Regions from separate parts of the Homo sapiens genome. Here regions 2, 3 and 4 are each reported to be linked to region 1. The links are microRNA targets in miRTarBase. Many come from high-throughput screens and were not tested one by one. Region 1 holds a microRNA gene; each other region holds the end of a gene's coding sequence.
The links. Region 1 holds the annotated microRNA hsa-miR-6867-3p (CUCUCCCUCUUUACCCACUAG, at 4,812-4,832, shown strand). A microRNA usually pairs through its seed, bases 2 to 8, with sites in the 3' UTR of a target mRNA and lowers its output. Matches are read on the target gene's strand: a 7mer-m8 pairs with bases 2 to 8, a 7mer-A1 pairs with bases 2 to 7 and ends in A, and an 8mer does both.

Region 2: the mRNA of UBD is a reported target of hsa-miR-6867-3p. The part of its 3' UTR that is shown has no 7-base or 8-base seed match.
Region 3: miRTarBase lists ZNF398 as a target of hsa-miR-6867-3p. Seed matches in the 3' UTR shown: 8mer at 3,078-3,085.
Region 4: the mRNA of SPIB is a reported target of hsa-miR-6867-3p. Seed matches in the 3' UTR shown: 7mer-m8 at 4,745-4,751 and 7mer-m8 at 4,361-4,367.

The regions. Positions count from the first base shown.
Region 1 is chr17:40,188,832-40,195,947 of GRCh38, forward strand. It overlaps MIR6867 (microRNA 6867), which reads left to right and starts at 4,766; the gene lies at 4,766-4,832. RAPGEFL1 (Rap guanine nucleotide exchange factor like 1) reads left to right here. Exons shown (of 15, transcript NM_016339.6): 5 at 35-147; 6 at 377-544; 7 at 1,603-1,700; 8 at 1,809-1,931; 9 at 2,485-2,663; 10 at 2,751-2,841; 11 at 3,382-3,432; 12 at 3,775-3,862; 13 at 4,095-4,159; 14 at 4,532-4,586; 15 at 4,833-6,819. The coding sequence ends at 4,957. RefSeq lists a silencer at 2,651-2,710 and enhancers at 2,831-2,910, 5,612-6,112, 5,737-5,786.
Region 2 is chr6:29,549,246-29,556,361 of GRCh38, forward strand. UBD (ubiquitin like modifier D) reads right to left here. Exons shown (of 2, transcript NM_006398.4): 2 at 6,270-7,105. The coding sequence ends at 6,635. It overlaps OR2I1 (olfactory receptor family 2 subfamily I member 1 (gene/pseudogene)), which reads left to right and starts at 1,162. Exons shown (of 2, transcript NM_001396058.1): 1 at 1,162-1,612; 2 at 3,980-7,116. The coding sequence starts at 1,607. The coding sequence ends at 4,921.
Region 3 is chr7:149,178,860-149,185,975 of GRCh38, forward strand. ZNF398 (zinc finger protein 398) reads left to right here. Exons shown (of 6, transcript NM_170686.3): 6 at 1-4,183. The coding sequence ends at 942. Among named protein-coding and RNA genes, the nearest start is that of ZNF282, 13 kb to the right of the region's middle.
Region 4 is chr19:50,427,674-50,434,789 of GRCh38, reverse strand. It overlaps SPIB (Spi-B transcription factor), which reads right to left. Exons shown (of 6, transcript NM_003121.5): 6 at 3,476-6,752. The coding sequence ends at 6,454. It overlaps MYBPC2 (myosin binding protein C2), which reads right to left and starts at 1,898. Exons shown (of 28, transcript NM_004533.4): 1 at 1,818-1,898. The coding sequence starts at 1,836. RefSeq lists enhancers at 19-519, 1,334-2,092, 6,142-6,431, 5,987-6,559, 6,560-7,116 and silencers at 2,442-2,661, 2,692-2,781.

The DNA.
Region 1 (7,116 bases):
AGGGCGTGCTGATGCCCAGCTGTGTCCATGCCAGGATTCCAGAGGAGAACCAGCCACCCAGCAAGCAGGTGAAGCCACTCTTCCGCCACTTCCGCCGGATAGACTCCTGTCTGCAGACCCGGGTGGCCTTCCGGGGCTCTGATGAGAGTGAGTGTGGGCATTAGGAGGGGCAGGGTGTCCTGAGTGGCTCAGGGGGACATATCTCTGGGTCTTGAGCACCCTCAGTGGCATCTCCCTGGGTGGTAGAACCAGCCCCTTTCACAGGACCTTCTTCAGAGGCCAGCCTCTGGTGGGGAATAGAGGCACCCTGGAGGAGACTGTGCCAGCTGCTGCCACTCTGCCCTCTGTTGAAAGCCATTTTCCTGTTTCCGTCCAGTCTTCTGCCGTGTATACATGCCTGACCACTCTTATGTGACCATACGCAGCCGCCTTTCAGCATCTGTGCAGGACATTCTGGGCTCTGTGACGGAGAAACTTCAATATTCAGAGGAGCCCGCGGGGCGTGAGGATTCCCTCATCCTGGTAGCTGTGTCCTCCTCTGGAGGTGAGGGTCAGGAAGAACTGGGCTGATGCTCCGAGAGGAGAAACTCACAAGCTCAGGGCTCTGGGGGAGGGGTAGAGACTGAATTCTAGGCCCTTGCTACTCAAAGTATGGTCCCGGGACAAGCCTCATGTGCATCGCCTGGGAACTTGTTAGGATGCAGCATCTTGCTGGGTGCAGTGGTGCAAACCTGCAGTCCCAGCTACTCAGGAGGCTGAGGCAGGAGGATTGCTTGAGCCCAGGAATCCAAGGTAGTACATTATGATTGCACCTGTGAATAGGCACTGCGCCCTATCCTGGGCAACATAACAAGACTCTGTCTCTAAAAGAGATGCAGCATCTGCGACCCCACCCCGACCTGCTGGTCTTGTTCAAATCAGCATTTGGACAGGACCCCCCAGGGGACTCCTATGCCTACTAAAGTTTGGGAGGCACTAGCTGGGCATGGTGGTGTGCACCTGTAATCCCAGCTACTTGGGAGGCTGAGGCAGGAGAATCACTTGAACCGCGGAGGCGGAGGTTGCAGTGCCGAGATCAAGACACTGTGCTCCAGTCTGGGCAACAAGAGCGAAACTCCGTCTCAAAAAAAAAAAAAAAGTTTGGGAGGCACTGGTCTAGGACTCAGGTTCTGATCTGAGTGCTGCCCCTCACTCACCTATGGATTGTATTCTGATCCTTTAACCTCCCTGTGTATGTAAGGATGCCACATTTCACAGGCTAAAGACACAGGATGAGTGGGAAGGCAGAAAGCCAGCAATGTCACTGAAGCTTTGTTTTCCTCTACAGTAGGAAAAAATTTCAGCCTTCCCAGTGTCACAAGGACAACAGAGTAAGAGAAAAGCTGTGAAAGAAAGGGAGTAGAAAAAAAGTTATAAATGCAAAAGAAATAATCATTTGACAAATTCCAGATAAATATGGCATAAACTAGTGATAAGATGAGTTCCATTAGTCTAGAATGTGTCAGTGTGGGGTGAGGAGTTTTTGGATAGGACAGTGTCAGTGTGGGATGTGTGAGGGTGCAGGCGGCAGGGGCCGAGGATGAGCAGCTCTTTCTCCTGCAGAGAAGGTCCTTCTCCAGCCCACTGAGGACTGTGTTTTCACCGCACTGGGCATCAACAGCCACCTGTTTGCCTGTACTCGGGACAGCTATGAGGCTCTGGTAAGAACTTCCCAAGGCCTTGACTGGAATGGAGGGCTGAGGAGGGCTGTGAGCAATCCCTCACCCTGCCACCAGGAGCCCAGCCCCTATGCCCCTGCCTGCCACCAGGTGCCCCTCCCCGAGGAGATCCAGGTCTCCCCTGGAGACACAGAGATCCACCGAGTGGAGCCTGAGGACGTTGCCAACCACCTAACTGCCTTCCACTGGGAGCTGTTCCGATGTGTGCATGAGGTGGGGACCGAGGCTGGTGCTATGCTGGGGGGCTGGAGGGAGAAATGTGCCATTGGGAGACGGTGTTCGCAGCACAACGTCCTGGTTCCAAGGCTCACTTGCAGCAAGCCCTTGGGCAACGCATGGCCGTAACCTTTGTTCCCCCATCTGAAAAAAATCGCAAAGAGAGAGACCCCAGAGCACAGTGGCTCAGGGCCCAAGTGCTGTTTACACAGAACCTGACCCAGGATTTCTATTTTTAAAATATTCACTATTAAAGAAATAAAATAAGGCAGAGACAATAATGCCTAGCAGATGGTTGTCTTGAGGATGTCAGCCGTGAGCGAATGCCTGGCACCTAGTAAGTGCTCAGTAGCTGGTGAAATATTATTAATGCTGGTTGTTTTCTTTTTCCGCATCTTTGCCGCCTCCTGTCCTTTCTATTTTTCTATTTTCCACCCCTTCCGCCCCCGCCCTCCTGCCTTTCGCTCCTCATCGCCTTGCACTGCCATCTTCCCACCCACTCCCCTCACCCCCTGGCGCCCTGGCCGCCCCTCCGCTGCCGTGGGTGCAGCTGGAGTTCGTGGACTACGTGTTCCACGGGGAGCGCGGCCGCCGGGAGACGGCCAACTTGGAGCTGCTGCTGCAGCGCTGCAGCGAGGTCACGCACTGGGTGGCCACCGAAGTGCTGCTCTGCGAGGCCCCGGGCAAGCGCGCGCAGCTGCTCAAGAAGTTCATCAAGATCGCGGCCCTGTGAGTGCGGCCGTCGGCGGGATGGGGGGCCGGAGGCCGGAGGCCCGCGCCGCCGCCCGCCCCTGACCCCGCCTCCCACCCCCGCAGCTGCAAGCAGAACCAGGACCTGCTGTCTTTCTACGCCGTGGTCATGGGGCTGGACAACGCCGCTGTCAGCCGCCTTCGACTCACCTGGGAGGTGATGAGACCCCTCCCGTTCCTACCTGGGAATCTGGGCATCCCGGGCTCCCCGAAGTGCGTCCTCCCGGGACGGCCGCCGGCCTGGAGGGAGTCTTTGCGCCAGTTGGAGGGAGGCGCCCTCTTCTGGCATACGCAACCCCAGGGCGCACAGCTTGGCTAATGGACCCTGTCTTTGTGCAAATTAGTGAAAAGCCCGGATCCCGCCTGAGTCACGGCAGGCAGCCCTTGGCCAGGTCAGGTCGCAGACTTGGCTGTGGGAGTTGGGCTGATTTTCATCCACACTCAGTGGGGGCATCTTTATACAAAGCACCTGCATAAGACAGACCTGGCCTTCCCCAGAATAATGAATTCCTCTGGGCTGTTTCAAGCCTCTAGACTTAGCCAAGGCCTGACTTCATTTCCCCACCCACCAGCTTCCCAGCCCCCTACAAGCCATGCAGGCCCTTTTGCCCTCCAACAGGGAGAATTAATCCGAGGCTCCCATGTAACCCAAGGAGCTCCACTCTGATATCCCTTCTCCTTCCTTCAAACTCTGCAGAAGCTGCCAGGGAAATTCAAGAACTTGTTTCGCAAATTTGAGAACCTGACGGTGAGTGGGTTTGGCTCTTTCTTCTGCTCTTGGACTGAGAGCCCAGAAACCCTCTGTTCCCATAAACCCCCTTCCTCAAGCTTTCCTTTCAAGGTGTTTAGTGTATGGGACCCCCCACCCTCCTTACCATGCTGGAGGGTGAGGTTGGAAGGATTGCGCCCCTGTTTTTCTTGAAGGAAAGGGGGAGTAGTCAGGTCCCTCCCCACCACACCATTAGAAAGCCCCCAGCACCCCTATCTGATCAGGAATGTATACAAGGCAGGGGGTGAGGGAGGAAGCTGAGGACATCTTTGGGATGCATTGGCCAGTCTGTCCCTTGATCTCTCTCCTGTGGAATACTAGGACCCCTGCAGGAACCACAAAAGCTACCGAGAAGTGATCTCCAAAATGAAGCCCCCTGTGATTCCCTTCGTGCCTCTGATCCTCAAAGGTGAGAGAGTTACTCCCAAGCTGTGCCGCTTCCACCCATGCTTCCCTTCTCCTATGCCCTGCTTCTGACTTCCAGCTCCCTCTCGACTCAGCCCTGAGTACCCACCTGGAGAGGAGCCCCCCACCACAGACGGAGTGGGTTCTGGGGAAGAGCGGGGTCCTCGGGTGCAGTGGCCCCTTTCGAACTCCTCTCTTATCCTTTCCTCACATTGGATTCTCTCCACATCCCCTAGACCTGACTTTCCTGCACGAAGGGAGTAAGACCCTTGTAGATGGTTTGGTGAACATCGAGAAGCTGGTGAGTGAGTGGCACTGCAAACCCCTAGTCCCACAAGTGGGGGGCTTGCATCCTCTCCCTCTCTCATCACCTCCCAAAAATAGCAGCCTTCCTCCAAGTGCCCAGCTTGCCTAACAGACTCTTGACTGTCTCCCTGGTGGCATCACTGTGGCAACCCACCCACAGGTGGCAGAGCTGACAGGCAGCTTGGGGGCAACTTCACCTCCCCCTCACATGGCACTCTGTTACACCCACTCCTTTGGTCCTTCAGAGACCCTCCAGAATTGGAGACTGGAGGGAGTAAAGCAGAGTGGGAGAATGGCGGAGGGGGAGCATAAGAGGGGGAGCCTCTTTCTGTGCCCCTTTCAAGGCTCATTCCTTGTCATCTCCCAGCATTCAGTGGCCGAAAAAGTGAGGACAATCCGCAAATACCGGAGCCGGCCCCTTTGTGAGTACCCAGGGTACTGAGAGCAGTACAGATAGAGCTTTGACTGAACGGGAGGGTTCAGGGGAGAACTCCCTGTCCAGATGTGTATTTCCATACACTTGCTGGTTCCCCATTCTCTCCTTGCCTCTGCAGAGGCCTTCCTGCCCAACATCTGTCTCAGTCCACAGCCTGATCTTCTGCCCGGTGTGTGTGTAGAGGAAGAAGGGAAGCTGGGAACCTGACTGCCTCTCCCTCTTTACCCACTAGGCCTGGACATGGAGGCATCCCCCAATCACCTGCAGACCAAGGCCTATGTGCGCCAGTTTCAGGTCATCGACAACCAGAACCTCCTCTTCGAGCTCTCCTACAAGCTGGAGGCAAACAGTCAGTGAGAGTGGAGGCTCCAGTCAGACCCGCCAGATCCTTGGGCACCTGGCACTCAAGCACTTTGCACGATGTCTCAACCAACATCTGACATCTTTCCCGTGGAGCAACTTCCTGCTCCACGGGAAAGAGGTCGATGGATTTACCCCTGGACCCATAAGTCTGTTCATCCTGCTGAAGTCCCCTCCCCATTGCTCCTTCAAGCCAAAACTACACTTTGCTGGTTCCTGTCCCCTCTGAGAAAGGGGATAGAAAGCTCCTTCCTCTATGTCCTCCCATCGAGATCTGTTCTGGGGATGGAGCTTCCAACTTCCTCTTGCAGCAGGAAAGAATGCTGCTCACCCTTCTGTCTTGCAGAGTGGGATTGTGGGAGGGATTGGCAGCCTTCTTCTCCACCACCTGTCCAGCTTCTTCCTGGTCAGGGCTGGGACCCCCAGGAATATTATGTTGCCGTGTGTGTGTGTGTGTGTGTGTGTGTGTGTGTGTGTGTGTGTGTGTGTGTGTGTGTGTCTTCTTTTAGGGAGCAGGAGTGCATCTGGTAATTGAGGGTGGATGTTGTGTGTGCTGGGGAGGGGTCCTTCTGTTTGGTGCTACCCTTGTCTACTCTGCCCCTGGATGGTGCGGGGTGCTTTCTCCACCCCCACACTCCCTGCTCAGCTCCTCGTGCTGCCCTGCATGCCCAGGCTTGTGAGCCAAGCTGCTTTTTGGGGCAGGGAGTAGCAGCAGGTGGGAGGGGTTACCCATCAGCCCTTGCAAGTCCCCCACTCAGGCCTCTGGAAGGTCCAGGGATGGGCTCTGATGAGAGGGTAAAAGATGCTCAGGGAAACACAGGCCTCAGCTGCCTAGAGGACCCTCCCCCTGCCTTGCAGTGGGCTCGGGTAGAGCAGTATCAGGAGCTAGGGTTGTCTGCTGCCCACACTCCTGCTTTTTGGGATATCTAACTGCTAAGGAGGGAGTTGACATCCCCCTTCTGGCTCATGTGTCTGACACCAACAACATGGTCTCTGTCCCTCTCTCTTTGACTCTCCCTTTGTCCTCCCCATAGAGCTGGGGTGGGGTGGATCCCTATACCTGGGGCAGGCAGCCCCAAAGTGGGGGAGGGGGATGGCAGAGACTGTAAAGGCGCCACTGGACTCTGGCAAGGCCTTTATTACCTTTACTCCCCTCCCTCTCCCATCACCAGCCTCAAGGCCTGAGGGGTGCAGGGGCTCCTGGCAGCTACTGGGTGAGGTTTCCTGGCACAGACTCACCCTTCTTTCTGGCACCACCTCTTTCCCTTTTGAAGAGACAGCAACAGCCGTAGCAAAAGCAGCTGCTGCTCCTGCTATGAGGGTGTATATATTTTTTACCCAAAGCTCTGGAATTGTACATTTATTTTTTAAAACTCAAAGAGGGAAAGAGCCTTGTATCATATGTGAACATTGTATCATAGGTAATGTTGTACAGACCCTTTTATACAGTGATCTGTCTTGTTCCTGCAGCAAAAATCCTCTATGGACATAGGAGGTGCTGTGTCCCATGCCCTCTTGCCCTGACAGTGTCCCATGGGCCCCCTTCTGCTCCCTGCCCCCTCCCTGCTACTGCTGATGCACTCTCCTCTCCCTGCAGCCCCTGGCTTCCCAGCCTTCCTCCTGACCCCTTCCAACAGCCTTGGAACTCCAGCTGCCACCACCCTCTGGGTCGGACACTGGGACCCACTGGCCCAGTCTTGGCTGCTGCTTACCCCTAGCCTTGATGCCTGCCCAGGGACCCCCAGCCCCCTCCCGTTGCCCTGCAGCTTTAACAGAGTGAACCATGTGTATTGTACAGGCGCGGTTGTCATTGCAGAAACCGCTGGGTGGAGAAGAAGCCGATAAAGTCTATGAATCAACCTGCCTGTTGTTCTCCATTCTGTTTTCTTTGAGGCTGTGGAAGTGCTGAGGGAGGGGAGAGGGGATGGCCGCCCAGTGCTGTCAGGAGCAGGGCTGTTCTGGAGTGACTTTGAAAATGTGGGTGGCGGGGTACAGTGGCTCATGCTTGTAATCCCAGCACTTTGGGAGGCCGAGGCGGGCAGATCACCTGAGGGCGGGAGTTCGAGACCAGCCTGGCCAACATGGTGAAACCCTGTCTCTACTAAAAATACAAAAATTAGCCAGGTGTGGTGGTGCATGCCTGTAATCCCAGCTAC
Region 2 (7,116 bases), not on the chromosome of region 1:
TATATTCCTAGCAGTATCAGAAGAAAAGGTGGAGTCCCATATGTGAGCACAGATGCAAGTAGGTGAACAGATGGGTTAGTAAGAACTTCTCTTTTTATTGCTTTACATTTTTTCAGTAAAAAATGAAGTAAAATTTTTATCTGAGAAAGATGATATTATTTGAGAGAGAGGAGTACTGGGGATTTGAGGGGAGACCAGAAAGTATGCATGAGTTACGTAGGAGAGGGGAAAGTGAGTGGACTAGGAAAATATGATTATCAATGACATTAGCCCCTTCCTCTTAAAGTAGTGGTCATGAATGTAAAGTGAAACCTCTCAGTGTGGCTATTGGCTTTCCTTCGGCCACAGTCAGCTGAACAAATATAGGGAGAGAGTAGGACTATAGTTGGATTTAAATAGGAAAGCAATTTAGCTGAAAGAGTGTAACAAGTGAAAAGGGCAGGAACATTGATGTATGCAAAGGAGTAATAGTGATTGACGAGACAGTCTAAGCTTGATAGAGAACTGAAGATACAAGGGGCGTGAGGGGCCACGATGAATTTGCGGACCTCTCACTGAGGAAGAAACTGAGAGGAAAGTATAGAAAGATAATCTATGAGGATACTGAATTCACCAAGAATCATCACAGTACTGGAGAGAGTGAGAGGGGATCAGGGACAAAAATCTTCAAGGACGAAGGAGGAGCAAAGGGAAAGAGAATGATGAGAGCCACAAGTGGGGAGGTGGACTTTGGAGCAAAGCTGATGACATAACAGTCAAAGCTACATTCAAAACTAATAATGACTTCAACAAATCTACAAAATTCCTGACAGAAAGGGTTATTTTCCTTGTTTTACAGATGATGACATTGAGAGTCACTGAAGTTAAACAATTAGCTTAAGGTCACTCCATCAGAGAATGAAATTCTAAACCAGTTCCAATTGAATAGTAGAAATATTAATGAGAGGGAATTACGCTGCCTTTGGCCTTCATACACTGCCAGAGGCACACTACCCTAAAGGGACTTTCCCTCCAGAATTTCCTCTTCCCCACTCTTGGGGACTCCTCTCCGGACACCTTCATGCAAAGTACTAATGATAGGAGTGGGACATCTATTCCCCAGAGCTCCATCCTCTCTTCTAAATAACAGGGAACGTTGAGTCCCCTGTTTTTTCTCTAGTGAGAGCACTCATCAGCATGCTTCCTCCTCTCTAACTGTGTCCTTTAGATCCAGGAGGGATATTTGCTACCACCACCAGCTAATGCTGATTTGCTACCAGCACAAGGCCCAGGTCCTTGTCTGGTCTGTACCCCATTACAAGGTTCTCCAGGAACAGACATCACCACCTCTGCCTAGATCCTGAAATTTCACAAATGTAGGTTCTTTCTTACCCGTTCTTTTTATTCCTCTATTTACAAGCACAATGACACCCACCCCTCGTCTTCTTCCTGAAATACCTGGCTCTGATCCCAGGCATCCATTCCAGAAATCAACACAGCTATGCAATTGCATCTTTTATTAAATACTCCCAACTCCATTTCAAATCCAGAGAATCCAGAGCAGGAGCAAGAGACCAACCTATCATCTGGAAACTCAAGGTGTAAACATTAGTGCCAAAGATTAGTCATGAAGGTAAGTTGGGTATTACAGTGCCCTACAACAAAATGGTCTTGTGCCGAGAGCCACATTCTGAAATACCAAGTGAAGTTTGATGACACATTATATTATATATTTCACAACAGATTTGTCTTCTAGATGTGTGAGGGAGATGATGGGTTTATGTGTACAGGTGCACACATGCCTATGTTTTGGGGAATTTGTGCATACATGTAACAAGAATGTTATCTGTGCAGTTTTATTATTGTGTGCCTGTTTTCATGGTGTGGCATATTTGAAGAGGAATGGTTTAGAGCTTGCCAGGCTGAACAGTTATGTGTCCGTGTAATCACCGCATTAAAGAATTTGACCTTTTGTAACTCAACATCTCTAGCCACCATTGGTCTGTAAGCCTGAATGTCACCTCTCCTACTTTATTCATCTCTGATATGACCCCAAATTATAAAATGATCTATAAATATAGGTAAGACTTTGCATGTCCTTTCATACTCCACAGTCTCTAGCACAGTGGATCCTGGTTGATCAAACAGGAAGGACCTCGAAGTTAGTCAAATATAAGTGGAAAACCTATTAAGCATTTACAAATAATGTGGCCTTGGGCAAGTAATTTAACTTCAGTTACTCTCCTAACATACTCTATAAAATAAGGCTATTGCCTAATATTCAAGTGAGTTAAGATTAGAGTTAATAAATGAAAAGAGCTGTAAATGTTCATAGCAGTTGTATCACTGCCTAGCATAAGAACCCCTTAAAAACCTGTTTCTTAATTTGGGAAACAGATATGACGATAGTTAGCATTTATTAAAGGATGACAGTTAACAACTGCTATGTGCCAGGCCTTGTTCTAACAGCTTTTCATATTTAGCCCACTTAACATATTTCTATTTTCATATGAGGAAACTGAGGCAGAGAGAGGCTAAGTAACATACCCAAGGTTTTCCAGCTAGAAAATGGCAGAGCCAGGACTCAAACCCAGGCAGTCTGGCTGCTGAGCCCTGGTTCTTAATTATGACATTAATGCTTATTCTGCCCAGTGAGGATAAAATGAGTGAAACATAAAATCAAACAGGATGTTTTGGTAGGGAGCAGTGTTTTTTCCCTCTGAAAAATGAAAAATTAGGTTATTGTGATTTTGTAATTTACAGCAGTGAATATGATGTGAAAAATAAGTTATCCATATAATAATTTATGTCAGGAGTCATGCAGCAGAAAGATTTCTGTCCATCACGTAAACTTTCATCCATTACATAACCCATATGTTTCTGTACCATTAAGACACTTGGTTCAACAAGACCCTTGGAGAATGAGGTTCCTTTTGTTCCCTGGGGTTCTCTTTTTATTTTATTTTTGGATTAATATTTGATAGTAAAGCCAAGGATTTGGGACAGGAAACTTAGATGACATCTAGTTCAAACTCCTTGATTTACATATGAAAAAATTGAGACAGAGGGAAATGAAGATTTCCCCATATCATATAACTGGCTAAAGGGAGCTATGTAGGTAAAACCAAGATGTCCTGATATTCTAGTCTACCAGAAAGTGTTCTTTTTTTCTACCCAACTTATTCCTGATTTAAAGGCTAGTATACGTGTGCTGATCTCCCCTCAGTGGGAGGGGCATGGACGTTGGGAGTAGTCTCTATTCACAACAAATTAAAAATCAGTAATCAGCCGTATAATGGGTTGTGTTAGAAAGTAAACTAAGGCCCAATAAAATATTTAAGAGTTTATTTGAGCAGTGATCCAGAAGTGGCTAGGGAGCTCCCCAGAGAGAACATGAGGAGGAGGCTTTTTAGGACAAATAGATAAAAGCAAAGATAATATTTCATTGGTTACAGTTATACAGTTACACAGTTATACAGTTGCCTTATTTGGTCTATCCCATGAGGAAGTCCTAGTTACTAATTACGTTTTTGTTGGCTGCTTCTGATTGGTTGAGCTTAAGTTCTGTGTTTCTTTAACATAGGCATTTACAAGAAATACCACAAATAAAGTTTCAGACATGCTTGCAAATCAAGCAAGGTTAAGGTCACTTAGGAGGCCCAACTGGCTCTGTCTGCTCAAGGATTCTTCTGGCCTCGTCTCCATTTTACATGAACTGTTGCATAAATAAACACAGAGTACCTGAAACAACGGAGGTGATCATTCTGCCTACCGAGTGTTGGCCAGGCCAAGCTTGGAGTGTTGCTCTTATTCTTAGGGAGTTTATTTTTAAGTAATCTCATCTGTAAATGGGATTACAATCCACAAACTGACCTTGTATATGATTCCATTCCTTCTCCCAGCCCAGCCCCACACTCCAAGGTTTTCCCTTTGCTTATAAGGGGTAGTCACCCTTTTTTATTTCGACCTTCCAAACATTCTGGGAGTTTTCCTCCTTTAGGCCAACTACAGCGCAGAGGAGCGCTTTCTCCTGCTGGGTTTCTCCGACTGGCCTTCCCTGCAGCCGGTCCTCTTCGCCCTTGTCCTCCTGTGCTACCTCCTGACCTTGACGGGCAACTCGGCGCTGGTGCTGCTGGCGGTGCGCGACCCGCGCCTGCACACGCCCATGTACTACTTCCTCTGCCACCTGGCCTTGGTAGACGCGGGCTTCACTACTAGCGTGGTGCCGCCGCTGCTGGCCAACCTGCGCGGACCAGCGCTCTGGCTGCCGCGCAGCCACTGCACGGCCCAGCTGTGCGCATCGCTGGCTCTGGGTTCCGCCGAATGCGTCCTCCTGGCGGTGATGGCTCTGGACCGCGCGGCCGCAGTGTGCCGCCCGCTGCGCTATGCGGGGCTCGTCTCCCCGCGCCTATGTCGCACGCTGGCCAGCGCCTCCTGGCTAAGCGGCCTCACCAACTCGGTTGCGCAAACCGCGCTCCTGGCTGAGCGGCCGCTGTGCGCGCCCCGCCTGCTGGACCACTTCATCTGTGAGCTGCCGGCGTTGCTCAAGCTGGCCTGCGGAGGCGACGGAGACACTACCGAGAACCAGATGTTCGCCGCCCGCGTGGTCATCCTGCTGCTGCCGTTTGCCGTCATCCTGGCCTCCTACGGTGCCGTGGCCCGAGCTGTCTGTTGCATGCGGTTCAGCGGAGGCCGGAGGAGGGCGGTGGGCACGTGTGGGTCCCACCTGACAGCCGTCTGCCTGTTCTACGGCTCGGCCATCTACACCTACCTGCAGCCCGCGCAGCGCTACAACCAGGCACGGGGCAAGTTCGTATCGCTCTTCTACACCGTGGTCACACCTGCTCTCAACCCGCTCATCTACACCCTCAGGAATAAGAAAGTGAAGGGGGCAGCGAGGAGGCTGCTGCGGAGTCTGGGGAGAGGCCAGGCTGGGCAGTGAGTAGTTGGGGAGGGGAGAAAGTATTAAGCCAGAACCCAAGGATGGAAATACCCCTTAGTGAGTCAGTTTAGACTTCAGGCTGTTCATTTTTGTATGATAATCTGCAAGATTTGTCCTAAGGAGTCCAATGGGGGATATGTTTTCCTCCCGTGAGGAAATGTTTAGTTCTTGAGGGAAAATCCCTAAATCCTCTATATACTCAGGTTTAGGGAAGGAAAACCTACCCCTCACAACTCCACGCGCAGGGAAAATGATGGACGTGATGCTCGCCTTTAGCTTCCTCCCTATCTGATGGAAGACCATGGAAGACCTCTTGGTCTCTGCAATCAGAAGTCTCAAGTTGACAAGAAAATCATAGTCCCTACCCTGCAGGAGAGGGTACATCCAGAAAAAGCGACCATGGACTCTATTCTCAGAAATCAGTCCAACTTAGTGCAGACCTGGCCAGATGACCAGTGCCCTCCCCGGGGCATTTCACCCATAAATGTGATGAGGAAAGCCCATAAATGGTGGTGAATTTTGCTGAGTGGGGTTAAGACTGGAAACCCCCCTGCAGGAGTTGGTTCTTGAGCAAGTTTTAAAGAAACAAGGAACTAGGATGAGTGTGGAAGAAGGCGGGCACGTCTCAGCCCGTGAAAAAAACTCACAGGTGATCAGTAGTGAGTCATGAGAGAGAGAGCAAGAGAGAGAGTCAGAGAGAGGAGTAAATGGAGGGAGGAAGATGGAGGAAGGGACTCAAGTTCTCAAGACAGGAACAGGGATCTCCTCATGAAAAAAAGAAGAGAGGAAAATGCTCAATCAGCAGAACCTGAGCAGAATATTGAGGTCAACCCAGAAGCCAGCTCCTCACCCACCCTCACCCAGACTGGCGCCCTCATCCTGGAGAAGACCTGCTAGACCCTAAGGCAGGTAGGAGAGAGGGTGGTCCACAGTCCCCCAGCTTTAGAAAGTTTGTTCGCTCCCAATGTCCATCTACCCCTAGGAATCCCCACTAGTTAAACAGAATTGCTAGATCCCTGTGGAAAATACCTTTCCTTGCCCACCATCATCCCCAGAAATAATAACTATTTTAGTTGGGTGTGAGACATAGAGAATAAAAGGGGGCATGGTGCCAGACTTCATTTCATACAAATAGCTTTAAAGGAGAAGAGGGGGGAAGGAGTTTAATTTAGTTTCTAAAATGTTTAGTAATTTGATTGTGATCATGTCAGAGCAACTAATTCATTTTATAAAATATCATTTCACTATGCTCTATAAGTAGAAATTCAATTTGGTTCAACCATTATTGAGTGATATAAATAAAGCACTGGACTTAACAAAGACAGAAATACAGAAATCAGTAGAACATGGATCCCAACCTAAAACTTACTCTCTTGTCATAAAGGAAAGGAGATAGGAGTTTTTGCATAAATAACAAGGTATCAAGACAGAATTAAATTCCAAGCTGGCTTTGAATGCTCTATTTTGCCTTAAAAATTTATTTACTAGTCTCAGTAATACATTAGTAAAAATCATGTCACTTAATTAATTGTGTTAGAATCAAAGAAACATAGAGTTGGGCAATATACTTCATCCTACCCATCCCACCCAAATCTTACTCTACTCATCTCATTCTCATTAATTTTGGGAAATCATCAGAAGATGTGTTCGTTGAGTAAGAGATTAAAAGAAATAAGCTTTTTGACCCCTGCCAACACCCCATGCCCAGGGTGGTCACCCTCCAATACAATAACATGCCAGGAAGAGTAAGTTGCCCTTTCTGATGCCGTAATCTGCCATCATCTTCCCATCTTCCAGTCTCTTTCCATTGCAAGTCACAATCTGGGTCTCAGGGATTATACCCGTCTTAGTCTCGATCATTGCTTTCACTTGTGCCACTGAGCTGGACCTTCGCACCTGGAGGAGGTGCCTCTTTGCCTCATCACCTGACTCCACAAGAAACAAGGGCAGCTCCTCATCACTGGGCTTCACCACTTTCAGGGTAAGGTGGATGGTCTTCTCTTTGTCAATGCCATAAGATGAGAGGCTTCTCCGTGGCTTTAAGATCTTGGAGCCCAGCAAAAGAACCTGGTCCTGCACAGGAACCTTGGTCTTAGACCGGACATGTTCTTTGATTTTTTTCACGCTGTCATATGGGTTGGCATCAAAGGTCATTAAATCCCATTCCTCGGAACGGACATGCACCTGGGAAGTGA
Region 3 (7,116 bases), not on the chromosome of region 1:
GGTAGCTATCCCCTCCCACCTCCAGTTGGCGAGCAGGTGTTCTCATGCCACCACTGTGGCAAGAATCTCAGCCAAGACATGTTGCTGACCCACCAATGTAGCCATGCTACTGAGCACCCCTTACCCTGTGCCCAGTGCCCTAAGCACTTTACTCCACAGGCGGACCTCAGCAGCACCTCCCAGGACCATGCCAGCGAGACACCCCCCACCTGCCCACACTGTGCCAGGACTTTTACTCACCCATCAAGACTTACCTACCATCTTCGGGTCCATAACAGCACTGAGCGTCCTTTCCCCTGTCCTGATTGCCCCAAGCGCTTTGCTGACCAGGCTCGACTCACCAGCCACCGGAGAGCTCATGCAAGCGAAAGGCCCTTCCGCTGTGCCCAGTGCGGCAGGAGCTTCAGCTTGAAAATCAGCCTCCTGCTCCACCAGCGGGGTCATGCACAAGAGCGCCCTTTCTCCTGCCCTCAGTGTGGCATTGACTTCAACGGCCACTCGGCCCTGATCCGCCACCAGATGATCCACACAGGCGAGCGTCCTTACCCCTGCACTGACTGCAGTAAGAGCTTCATGCGCAAGGAGCACCTGCTGAACCACCGGCGGCTGCACACAGGCGAGCGGCCCTTCAGTTGTCCTCACTGTGGCAAGAGCTTCATCCGCAAGCACCACCTAATGAAACACCAGCGCATCCACACCGGGGAGCGGCCCTACCCCTGCTCCTACTGTGGCAGGAGCTTCCGCTACAAACAGACACTCAAGGACCACCTCCGTTCAGGCCACAATGGAGGCTGTGGGGGTGATAGTGACCCATCAGGTCAGCCACCCAACCCACCAGGTCCCCTCATAACTGGGCTTGAAACTTCTGGCCTGGGTGTCAACACTGAAGGTCTAGAGACCAACCAGTGGTATGGGGAAGGGAGTGGAGGGGGAGTTTTGTAAATCCAAATCTCTGTGGCTTCATGCTTGTATATGCTCACAGCAGGGCACAAAATCCAAGAGAAGGTCTGTGAGCCCCATCCAACACCCACAGTAATTATTATCTGGCACATCAATGAATTTGGGGTCCTATACACTTGACTAGAGACATGCTTGTGTTTTGGAATTTCACACCCTTACAAGAATACCACATTTTGAAACCCAGAAAGACCTGGAAAGGAGCCCAGCATGTCCATCTTTTCAAAGATACAACAAAAGCAGAAGTTACAAGAATATTGCGGAGAGGTTGGAAAGCAGGATTTAACCTCTAGTTCTCTTGTTCTCAGAGAACAGCAGGTTGATAGTAGATTATGTCTCTAGGTAGAGACAGATACATGAGAAGAGCCTCCAAAACTGGAAGCCCATCATAAGGCATGAGAATGTTTAACTATAAAGCCTTTTATTAGTTCTTTGATAGCTAAGATGGTTGTTGGAGAAAGTGCTTAAGCCACTGTTTATGTTGCTGCCTCCTCTCTCAAAACCAGCCAAGATCTGTTCACACACCTCTGTGGCTGTCTTTCCCTGAAACATGGTAACTCAAGACTGCCTGCCTAGGTTTCTTAGATTAATTATTCACATAAATTTTGTTTAATATTGGTTGAACAAGAAATCTGACTTTAAAAGATTATTAAGGAGAATATTCCTTAACTATACTGGCTTGATTTGAAACAGGCTCTTATTGCCATTTAAACTGCCAGAAATCTTTGCCAAGGTCCTGGTTAAAAAAATTGGAAACGGTTTTCTTAGCCCCAGCTTTAAAAGCTAGAGATCTCAGAGAAATAGCTGGCTTAACAATGACAGAACAGCTTAAAATTTGTGCCTACACCATGTTCTGAGAGTCGTTCACATCAAATTCTTATCTTTTCCAAGCCAGTAAGTTGGCTTCTCCATTCCTGGTGTCTGATATTCTTGACAATCATCAGCAACAAAGATCACAGCACTTTCCAGAAGCATGGAGCTTCAGAAAGTGCCAGTGAACTCTTGGTCCTCAGTAGTGAGATGATAACAGTGTTATAATGCAGCTTCCTTGAGCCATCAGAGAGAGTGTATGTTCACCCTATCTGGCTGTATCCCATTGGCAGTGGACAGATTGAGGAAATTCCTAGATCACTGAGAGCTAAGCACCATGCATAGACAACAGTTTGTTCTTGCCTGTGTTGCTTTTAGGGACTTTGACTACCACATGTTCTTTTCTTGGGGTGATTTAATCACCTGGGAGCATCTGAGTCTGCTCCTAAGTGGCTTTGCAACTGGGCCTAAGTTCTGTTTCCTTTATGGATCTCAAATTTTCATCTGCACAATGAGGCTGTTGAAAGGAAAAAAAGTGAGCCTCTAGGAATTATTCAAAAAAAGTCTGTGATACATTCCTTTTCCTGCCAAAGTTCTGTCTCTGTCTTTGGCTTCTGTCCAGGCAAAGCTAAATAAGACAGCAAAGTCAAAGCAGATAAATTCTTGTTGAAACTTGACTAAAATTTATTTGATTTGTTGTTTTACTCCCACTTGGAATCCTGAGGTAGAAGACAGAATGCAGAAGTCTTACATCTTGGGCAGGAAACTGGTTTATTCCTATACTCTTGTTTCCTCTGCTTCTTCCTGAGGTCTAGAACAAGGTCTGGAAATGTTTAGACAGGATATTTTCTTGATGAAGTGATAAGGAAAGGACCCATTTTTTTGCTCATCACCTAGCCCATCCTTCACTCTCTCTAGTTATGCATAACAACACTAGAAGAAGGTGTTAGCCCAGCTAACTTTGCTTCTGGGAAGGCTATGTCTGAACATGTTGCTCTGTAGGATAATCACACTTAGAAAACATCTGCTCCATGACATTCACAATACCAGGGACCATGGGAGACACAAGAAATGTGTGTCTGCTGTCATAACTTACAGTGAAAAAGCCCAATAATACAGAACAAGACATGATGGGCAATACCCTAGCATATTGGGATTAAGAGCTTTCTAGCCAGAATCTGGACCTATACCATGGGAAAATTTAGGGGTGCTGGGAATCCCAAAGCCAAGGTTCTGGCTTCATTGGCAACCCACTAGGAACTTGAATGTGAGATTCAGCTCTAGTTTGCACCTTGATTTCCCCAGTGAAAAGGGAGAAGAGCCAAAGTATTGTCTAGGTGCTGAGTTCCCTTTTCTGAGTGGATTTCAAGCATTTGCCAGGGTATGCTGGAGGAGGGACTCCTAAAGTAGGTGAGATGTGGGACTAGGTAACACTTTAAATACTTTTTTACTCAAAGATTTGCCAAGAACACAGCTTATTAGTGAAAGAGACCTGTGGATTGAAATGGCTGCAGATAGATCCCGCAGTCCCTTCTGAAAGGAACTGTGTAGCCAGCAGGGACCTAAACTTTGGCAAAAAGTGAACACAATTCAAATACGAATGAAGGAAGAGCCCTCAGATGGAACGAAAGGCGATGTGCAAGGCCATCCCAGAGAGACGGAAGCAGGTGCGATACTAAGCCTCAGCCCAAGAATAAAAGAGAGTTCAACTGTTACTCTTTTCTTTCATCAATCCCCTATCAGTTAGAACTGCAGGCCAGTTCCAAAGAGTGTTTGCTTAAGATTCAAAAGTGGGTAAGTAAAATGGATCAGTGGGAAGGATAAGGTGTCCAACAGAAAGTGTGGAGGAGAAACTCTTGGCCTATCAAGTGCTCCTGAGAGAAACCATGCAATTTAACACTTCAGTTAAAGAAATACATGAGAACTGCTTGTCATGACCAGACAAGATAGGAAAGGGGAAACCCCAGAAACGTGCTCTTCATCTGTCAGCCTTTTGGACCAAGAAGCTGTCACTATCACACATAAGCACCATTCCCTTAGAGTGGATCCAGGTGTTGACTATAACCAGATTTACTCTTTGCTTACTAGGTTTTCCATTGTCACCATTGGATGAACCTCTGGTTTAGCCACAGTTGTGAAAATAAATGGAAGTTGGTTGATTGTCTAGAAAGTGCAAGAAGATGGCCCTGCTCCTTTTCTGCTGAACATTTAGTATTGGAAACTCCTACTTCCCTTTTCATTAATAATGTGTGCAAGTTTCCTATTAGCGGGGAAGGTGTGGGGCTCTGCTGGGCTTCTCTTGAGCATATCTGAGAAGTGATGTTCATGTCTATCTCAACCAGGACCAGACCCTGTGACTTACTCGGTAATAACAGTCCACACAAGCCTCGTTGATATTAAAAAAAAAAAAAAAAAAGGACCTCATTCCAAATGGAATGGGAATCCCTAATTTCTGCTCAGATTTTCTCTGAGGAGGGGCAGGACTCCTGCCCTTCCTCTCATGTCTTAGCTTCTTAAACTACAAAAAGCATCCTCAGTGACTGCCTGAGGGCAGCTCAGTAGCCATGAACAAAAGCATCTTTCTTTCTCAAAAATATTTTCTTACGGACAAGGACCTCTGATGTCACCAAATATGTTTTTTTTTTTCTTTCTTTGTGCCTGATTTTTTTTTTTTTTTTTGAGACGGAGTCTTGCTCTGTTGCCCAGGCTGGAGTGCAGTGGCACGGTCTCGGCTCACTGCACTCCGCCTCCTGGGTTCACGCCATTCTGCCTCAGCCTCCTGAGTAGCTGGGACTACAGGCGCCCGCCACCACGCCCGGCTAATTTTTTGTATTTTTAGTAGAGATGGGGTTTCACCGTGTTAGCCAGGATGGTCCCGATCTCCTGAGTTTGTGATCCACCCTCCTCGGCCTCCCAAAGTGCTGGGATTACAGGCATGAGCCACCGCGCCCGGCAACCTGATTGATATTTCTAACCCTGTTCTCTTTAGTCTTGGTTTTTTGTTTGTTTTTGCTGAAAAATTGTTTTTAGAGAAGTCTCACTGTATTGCTGTGTTGCTTAGGCTGGTCTTGAACTCCTAAGTTCAAGTGATCCTCCTGCCAAGGCCTCCCAAAGAGCTGAGATTATAGGTGTGAGCCTCCTTGCCTGGCCTAGCTCCAGTTCTTTATCTGTAGCAAAGGAGCAGTCATTTCTCACAGGGTTTATACACAGAGGCTGTTCTTTGGTTTTGGTTTTGGTTTTTGAGACGGAGTCTGGCTCTGTGGCCCAGGCTGGAGTGCAGTGGCACGATCTCGGCTTACTGCAACCTCTGCCTCCTGGCTTCAAGTGATTGTCCTGCCTCAGCTTCCGAGTAACTGGGATTACAGGTGCACACCACCACAACTAGCTAATTTTTGTATTTTCAGTAGAGATGGAGTTTCACCATGTTGGTCAGGCTGGTCTGGAACTCCTGACCTTGTGATCTGCCTGCCTTGGCCTCCCAAAGTACTGGGATTACCGTGCCTGGTCCGTTCTTTGTTTTAAAATGTTTCAGACTCTTACAAGCAAAAGATACTCAAGTTAGATCAAATTGGTGGGGGCAGGGAGTGTGCAGGGCCTTAACAACAATACATCATGTATGTTAGTACAGCTTAATGGTTATGAGCAGGGACTCTGGAGTCCTCGATTCAAGTCCTGACATCGTAAGTAAGATAACTGATGTATTATTTAACCATCCTGAGCCTTAGTTTCCTTATCTATAGGATAGGGATAATAATACCTGTGTCTCAGAGGTGTTAAGGCTCAAGGGGAAACCTATGTAGTATGTAACACAGGACGCTCACAGGAGGTGTTCAGTATATCGGCTATCAGATTTTACAGGACCAACCAGACGGGGGGTCATAAAGCTGGGCTGAATTTGAAGTGAATTTGCCAAAAACGGAGGCTGCTCTGCAGAAGTATCATGGGCCAGAGCATATTGTTTCTTGCAGAAAACAATATGGAAGGTTCTGTGTATGTATCTAGAAGGTTAGGTTTATGTATCTTGCAGGAGTCATTTGTCACTTTCTAGGATGTTATTCCTTCTGGCTTTGTTTTAGTTTCTTTTTAAATGAGTAACTGGCCACAATCATGTATACACACATTCACAATGACTTTTCTCAACTTGGTCAATTAAATTGCCTCTTCAAAAAAAAAAAAAAAAAATTTACCCTTAAGACCAACCTCCTGGCCGGGTGTGGTGGCTCACACCTGTAATCCCAGCACTTTGGGAGGCCGAGGCGGGTGGATCATGAGGTCAGGAGATCGAGACCATCCTGGCTAACACTGTGAAACCCCGTCTCTACTAAAAAATAGAAAAAATTAGCCGGGTGTGGTGGTGGGCGCCTGTAGTCTCAGCTACTCAGGAGGCTGAGGCAGGAGAATGGCGTGAACCCGGGAGGCAGAGCTTGCAGTGAGCCTAGATCGCGCCACTGCACTCCAGCCTGGGCAACAGAGCGAGACTCTTGTCTCAAAAAAAAAAAAGGAGACCATCCTCCCATCAAAGAAGGCAGATATTCCAGCCCAGAGATGCCTCAAAAACAGTGTCCTGCAATGCTCTCAAAAATTCCCAGGTTACATTTCAAATAAAATACTTGATAAAGGCCGGGCATGGTGGCTCATGCCTGTAATCCCAGCACTTTGGGAGGCTGAGGCGGGCGGATCACCTGAGGTCAGGAGTTTGAGACCAGCCTGGCCAACATGGCAAAACCCCATCTCTGCTAAAAAGACAATTAGTTGGGCGTGGTGGTGGGTGCCTGTAATTCCAGCTACTCGGGAGTCTGAGGCAGGAGAATCACTTGAACCCTGGAGGTGGAAGTTGCAGTGAGCCGAGATTGCGGCACTGTACACCAGCCTGGGTGACAAGGGTGAAACTCCATCTCAAAAAAAAAAATCCATAAAATAATAAAACCTCATTGAGCTATGTGGCTTTATGTTTACTAGCAAAGCTAGTATTTACTGTAAAATCTTAAAACTGGTCTAAAACTTAAGCTACCCAAGAACAGAGGCCATGTATTATTTTGTATTCCTCATGATGCCACATGCTGTTAGGCACATGGTTGCTCAATGAATGATCATATAGTATGAAGACCACCAGAAGTAGGAGTTAAAAAGTGGATGATGGTCCTTGCTTAACATTCTCTACTTGTATGGGGCAAACTACCTAATTTACAAAGATGTTATTTTCCTCTCTCTAATGTGAAGATTGAACAACATGGTAATATAAGTTCCTTTATTCTGGAGTAGGATTGCCAGAATTGGGGAAAAGGCCCTTCAATTACAAAATTACAGAATTTAAGATTTTACTTTTGGGTCCTGTTCCCTTGTCTGGTT
Region 4 (7,116 bases), not on the chromosome of region 1:
TCCCCTGCCCTGCCTGCTGTTCCTTGCCGGCTGGGTCTGCAGCTACAGTAGGGGCTGGACCCACCCCACAGCCTGCTTGGCCTGATGCCAGCGGACCAGACATCCCAGGAGGGGGTCCGCCCAGCGGTGCATGATTCCTGCGGTGAGTTCCTCATAGAGAGAAAGCCTCATCTCCACAGAAAGTGTTCCCCATTCAAAGAAGGTCCCCAAACCCCGCAAAAAGGACCCCATTCCCTGCATGAAGAAGCCCCGCTAATTCCTACACGGGGAAGCCTCAGTGCCCACAGAAATGAGGCTCCCCCATCCTTAATACAGAGACTTCCCCTGTGACTCCATGCAGATGGGAACCACTAATCTTTATACCCACAATCACCCCATATCCTACAGAGAAGGTCCCTTGGAATCTATTTTTTGTTTTTGTTTCTGTTTTTTCCCAGCAGGGTCTCGCTCCGTCTCCCAGGCTGGAGTGCAGTGGCAAGATTTGGGCTCACTGCAACCTCCGTCTCCTGGGCTCAAGTGATCCTCTCACCTCAGACTCCTGAGTAGCTGGGACTACAGGCACACCCCCACAAGCCCAGCTAATTTAGTATTTTTTGTAGTGACGGGGTTTTGCCATGTTGGCCAGGCTGGCCTTGAACTGCTGGGCTCAGGTGATCCACCCACCTTGGCCTCCCAAGGTGCTGGGACTACAGGTATGAGCCACCGCACTGGGCCATTTTTGTTGTTGCTGTTGCTTGTTTTTTAGAGACGGGGTCTCACTCTGTCACCCAGGCTGGAGTGCAGTGACGTGATCACAGCTCACTGCAGCCTCAACTGCCTCCTAAGTATCTGGGACTACAGGCATGCACCACCACACCTGGCTGATTTTTAATTTTTTGTAGAGACAAGGTCTCGCCATGTTGCCCAGGCTGGTCTTGAACTCCTGGCCTCAAGCAATCCTCCTGCCTCGGTATCCCAGAGTGCTGGGATGACAGGCGTGAGCCCCTGCACCTGGCTCCCTCTGAGTCTTCACTCAGAGAAGTGGCCCAGACCCTGCCCAGAGGATGCCATCCCCGGATGTGGAGAATCCAGTCACATGCAAAGACCTCCCAGTCTGGCCGGGCTCGGCGGCTCATGCCTGTCATCCCAGCACTTTGGGAGGCTGAGGCGGGTGGATCACCTGAGGTTGGGGGTTTGAGACCAGCCTGGTCAACATGGCGAAACCCGTCTCTATTAAAAATACAAAAATAGCCAGGCATGGTGGCGCAGGCCTGTAATCCCAGCTACCCCAGGCAGGAGAATTGTTTGAACTCAGGAGGCGGATGTTGTAGTGAGCCGAGATCGCACCAATGCAGTCCAGCCCCGGGGGCAGAGCGAGACTCCATCTCAAAAAAAAAACCAAAAACCAAAAAACAAAAACAAACAAAAAAACCCAGTCTACACACACAGACCCCCATCCCCATCAAGCAAAAGGAACCCAATTTACAACCAGAGAATCCCATCTCCACCAGAGATGCCCCCCCAATCACTTATAGAAAAAGAAACACCCTCCCTGCTGAGTGAAGGGGATCCCTCACCCCACACAGATATGAGACCCACCCCATCTCATACAAGGAAGGAAACTCCTGTCACAAAGGGAAGGGACCCTCTTCCCCATGCAGAGTCGAGACCCTCACCCTAAACTGATGCGGGAACCCCCATCCCGCACAGCAAAGGGAGCCTCCTCCTCACACAGCGAAGGTTCCTCCTTCTCCCAACCCTACAAACAGAGGGGTCCCAAATCCCCATCCAGAAAAGAAGAGCCCCATCCCCACACAGGGAGGGGGTCCTGGCGCCACCTGGTTTTGCCTCAGGCATGTCGGGGGACCTCCTCCTGCTCCTCTGACCGCAGCCGCGTCCCGCTAGGCCCTAGGGAGGACAGGTGGGCCCCTAAGGGGAGCCTTTTAATGAGTCCTGAGACTCCCAGAAGGCTCCGGGAGACATCAGACCACAGGGCCGCCCCACATTCCGCCCGCATGTTCTAAAGGGCGAGAAATAACAGCTGGACCTAGGGAGATGGCTGAGAGCCAGGTCCCCAGGGAGGAGGGGCTGGGGCTCGGACACCTGGGTCTGAGGGAGGAGGGGGCTGGGGCTCGGACTCCAGAATCTCAGGGAGGAGGGGACTGGGTGCTTGGACCCCTGAGTCTGGGAGCAGAAGCAACTGGGGTCCCAGATTCTTGGGTTCCCTAGAAAGGACGAGCGCCTGGACGCCTGGGTCCCGGGAGAAGGAAGAGGAAGAGACTGAGGGTCTCAAGGGGGTAAGGGCTGCGGGCCAGAGCTCTGGCATGAAGCAGGGAGGGGAGGGACAGGGTCTAGGAAGCCATTCTTAGCATCTGCAAGTCAGGAGTTTTCGGGAAACCGGAGCCGGGAGGGAGGGTCCGGTTTCCTAGCGTAGGCAGGACGGCGGCGGGGGGAGGAGGTCCCTGCGCCTCCGGGGAGGGCGCCGCGGCTCTGGGACTCCGGAGTTTCGCGCCCCGGGCGTGGGCAAACCCAAAGAGCTGGGGCCCCGGCCATCTGGGACCCCGGACTGGCCGCCGCCCCTCCTGGGACCGCTCCCCGCGACTCTTCCCGGAGCGGGCACGGCAGGCACCGGACGCGGGTAGGGGGTGGGCGTCCCCGGTGGGGGCGGGTGGGAGGCTGGGAAGGCCCTGGAGGGCTGCCCGGACGTTGGCGCCCTTCCCGGCAGGGGGACCTGTGACTTTCTGAATGGGGTGGCTCTGGACGCGGCGGGGAGCCGAGGGGGCGGGGCCTGGGGAGGGGCGGGGCTTGGGGACACCAGGTGTTGTGGGGAGGAAGGAGGGAAAGGGTGTTGGGGACTTAGGGTTAAGGCTGGGGGACTGCCTGGCTAGTAACGCAGCGTGAGGGACCCGGTGTGAGGAAAACAAGTCCCTCCGCTTTTTTTTCCTGTTCATCTTCCCCCTCCTCCTTTTCCAAAACCCCCTACGAGCCGGAAATTTCTCCGCCTCCGGGGAGCGTCCAGCCAATCCGGCGTCAGTTCCATGTGATGTCACGGGTTGCCAGGCAGACTGCCACTGCGCTCCCGCGAGCCCCGCTAAGTTGGGGAGGGGCCCAGGCCTGCAGTGCCGCGGCCACCTGAAGCCTCGCGTCCCTCGCTGCCAGCCCGAGGGCTCAATTCAGAGGGAAGGGGACAGACACCCAGACGGAAGGGGAAGCGGGGAGGAGGTGGAGAACTTCAGTTGGCAGGAATAGAGGAAGACATAAACGGAACCCTCTGTGCCTGCGCGTCAAGCCTCTTATTTCTCGGCATTAAGGTTCAGATAGGTTTTGCTGTATGGTGTCTTTGTGATTTGTTTGTTTGTTTTTGAGACAGGGTCTCGCCGTGTCTGGAGTGCAGGGGCACGATCACGGCTCACTGCAGCCTCAACTTCCTGTGCTCAAGTGACCCTCCCACCTCAGTAGTTCGGAGTAGCTGGAATTACAGGCATACGCCACCACACCCCGCTAATTTTTTATTTTTTTTGTAGACGGGTGGGAAGGGGATCTCACTATCTTGCCCAGGCTGGTTTCAAACTCCTGTACTCAAGCGATCCTCCTGCCTTGGCCCCCCAAAGTGTTGGGATTACAGAGCCACCGCGCCAGCATATAATTCTCTCTTTGAACTCCTCTCATCATCACCCGTGATGTCACGGTGTCTCTGAGAGCCAGCGGCCTCAGTGGAGGGGCAGGATTGCAGTCCCTGACAAAAGGTCCCAGGAGGTTTGTCTACGTCGATGCATCTTATTTTATTCCACATTTAGGGTGACAATGATAGCTTTTGTAAAAAGTACCTTCCCCGTTGCAGGGGGCCCTGGGGAGGACGTTTTACCTGCCCTTCCTCCCTCCCCCTTCCCACTCATTCTCTTAAGGGCAGGTCCCAGCCTGGGCTCTGCCATCAGCTGCTGTGTGCCTCCACATGGACTTCTCGTGTCTCTAGGTCATTGGCATTCCTTCCTCCTCCTCCTCCTGGGAGTGGGGTGGATTTCAGGCGGTGTCAAAGGCTCAACGGGGCTGCAACAGTTTTTTTTTTTTGAGACGGAGTTTCGCTCTTGTCGCCCAGGCTGGTGTGCAGTGGTGTGATCTCAGCTCACTACAACCTCCGCCTCCCAGGTTCAAGCGATTCTCCTGCCTCAGCCTCCCAAGTAGCTGGGAGTACAGGCACATGCCACCACGCCCAGCTAATTTTGTATTTTTAGTAGAGAAGGGGCTTCACTATGTTGGTCAGGCTGGTCTTGAACTCCTACCTCAGGTGATCCACCTGCATCGGCCTCCCAAAGTGCTGGGATTACAGGCGTGAGCCACCGCACTGGGCTGGAAAGTCTTTTTGAGATCTTCCTCCTCCTTCTCTCCCTTTTTCACAGAAGGGACAAACTAAGGTTGGGAAGCAGCAAGTCATGCACCCTAGATCCACCTGCCCACCCAGGCTCAAGGACCTCTGGCCTCTTGGCCCGCAGCCTTTGACTCCCTGGGGGTCCCAACCAGGGCTCCATAGTCCACCCAGGCTTCAGTTCCAGCTGGGTTTATACAGTGGTCTAAAGCCAACAGGCTTGAGAAGCTGCTAGGGTGAGATAGCCAGGGATGGCAGCGACTGGGGCAGATTGGAGAACAAATGCCTCATTAGGAAAGGCTACTGTCCTGTTCCAGCTCCCCACCCCCCACCGAAAACTGGCCGACTCTCTCCAGACCGTCCAAAGTTTTAAGTGAAGGCAGAAATCTGGATTATGCAAAGTCTCCCTATTTTGAATGGTCTGCTGTTTTTGTTGTTTTTATTTTCAGACGGAGTCTCGCTCTGTCCCCCAGGCTGGAGTGCAGTGGCACAATCTAGGCTCACTGCAACCTCTGCCTCCCACGTTCAAGCGATTCTCTTGCCTCAGCCTCCCGAGTAGCTGGGACTACAGGCACGTGCCACCACGCCCAGCTAATTTCTGTATTTTTAGTAGAGACAGGGTTTCACCATGTTGGCCAGGATGGTCTCGATCTCTCGACCTCGTGATCCGCCTGCCTCGGCCTCCCAAAGTGCTGGGACAACAGGCATGAGCCACCGTGCCCGGCCTTGTTTTTGTTTTTAAGACGGTGTCTCACTCTGTCGCCCAGGCTGGAGTGCAGTGGCACGATTACAGCTCACTACAGCCTCCTACTTCCTGGGCTCAAGAGATCCTCCCACCTCAGCCTCCTGAGCAGCTGGGACCACAGGTGTTCACCCCCACGCTCGGCTAATTGTTTTTGTTATGTTTTGTAGAGACGAGGTCTCATTATGTTGCCCAGGCTGGTCTTGAATGCCTGGGTTCAAGCCATTCCCCCTGCCTCGCCTCCCAAAGTGCTGGGATTACAGGTGTGAGCCATTGCCCAGCTGATGGCCTGCTGTTAATGTGGATCCCTCACACCTCCACCACCAAGTGCTACAGTGCACTAAAGAGACCACCACCAGCGACCGGGGCCTCGGTTGGGGGGCAGGGGGGTGACGACCTTGAGACTTCTGGTTAGAAATGACATGGGTGGGGAGCTGCCATGATCACCCAAAATCAGTCGCGTGGCCAGAGTGGTCTTCAGCATGGCCATAGGGAGTGGCACTAGGAAGGGTAGGATCCCCATGAGAACTCAGTCTTTGTGGGGTCCCTGAAAGGGCATATCAGATGGAGAGCCTAGGAGGTCTCAGATGTGATTGGAGGATCCCAGATATAACAAGGGTGTCCCTGACAGGGCCCAGACATGACACATTTCACTGACTCCCCATCCTCCACCCCAGACCTCTCAAGAGTGATTTCAGACATGACAAAAGGATCTTGGAGGAGCCCTAGATGTGATTGGGGAACTCCAGACACATAAAAAGGGGCAGCAGAATAGTTCCAGAGAATTGGGGGATCTCAAAAATGAGGGGACAGATGTGACAACACAGCCATAGATGGGCGAAGAGATCTGAGATGATAACAGCTCCCAGAGGGCCCCAGACATAACTAGGAAATCTCAGATCTGACAAGAGGGAACCTTGGACAGGGCTCAGGGTTGCCAGCAGGGCCCCCACCCCAGATGAGATTCAGGGTTTACAGACACACAGCGATCTTAAAAACGTCCCAGGCCTCACTGGGGAATCAGATATCACAAGAAAATCCCAGAGAAGCTCTTGGGATTCTGGAAGAACTGCTACCCTGCCTCCCCGAGTATAGTGGTCCATAGGTCCTGTCACCCAAAACATGAGGATCCCAGGGAGTCTGTACATGACAAAGAAATCCCAGAGGACCCCAGGCACAAGTGGGGAATCCCAGACAGGCCCGGGCTGGGCTTGGGGATTATGGCAGGGCAGCACTCCCCTTACCCCAAAAGGTGGGGATGCGTAAGTCCTATCACCTAGAGTGTGGGGACGCCCTTTTTCTTCCAGGGGGATCCTGGCTGGGACGTGAGGTCCCCCAGCGGCTCCGCAGGTGGGAGCCTCGGGTGTGCTCAGGCCCGGCGGACTGCAGGCAGCAGCGCGCTGTCGAACTGGTAGGTGAGCTTGCGCTTGACCTTGCGGATCTCGCCGGTCTTGGCGTAGTTTCGGAGGGCGCGCGCCAGCTTCTGGTAGGTCATGCGCTTGCGGTTCCCCTTCTGCTGGCCCCAGCGGCGCGCCAGGAGTTCCTTGTGCTTGGAGGAGAACTGGAAGACGCCGGCGCCTGGCTCCACCCACCACACGCACTCACGCATGTCCCCGCGCGTCAGTAGCCCCAGCAGGAACTGGTACAGGCGCAGCTTCTTGCGAGTCCCTGCGGTGGGGTCGGGGGCACGCGTTAGGTGAGGGGTCCCTAAGGCCCCGCCTTCCCCATCCACCCTCCTCCGAGACTTCCACCCCGGCCTCCATCTCCTGGATCTGAAAAGTGGGGTGAGGGAAGTGGCTGTTACATACACCTGGCTCTGCGCCCCTCACCACGGGGGGGGGGGGGGGCAAGCCACTCCCCCTGCCCGAAGCTGTCAGCCCCAGGCCCCCTCCGCGTTCTGTGCTTTAATTTTCGAGATTTACATCTGTCCTGCCTTCCGCCCTGCGGCCAGCACGTAATATTCCATATTTGTTGAGCTAGTGGATGAAAGAATCTGTGAAATGGGTTGACAGCGCCGCTTAAAGGATTATAA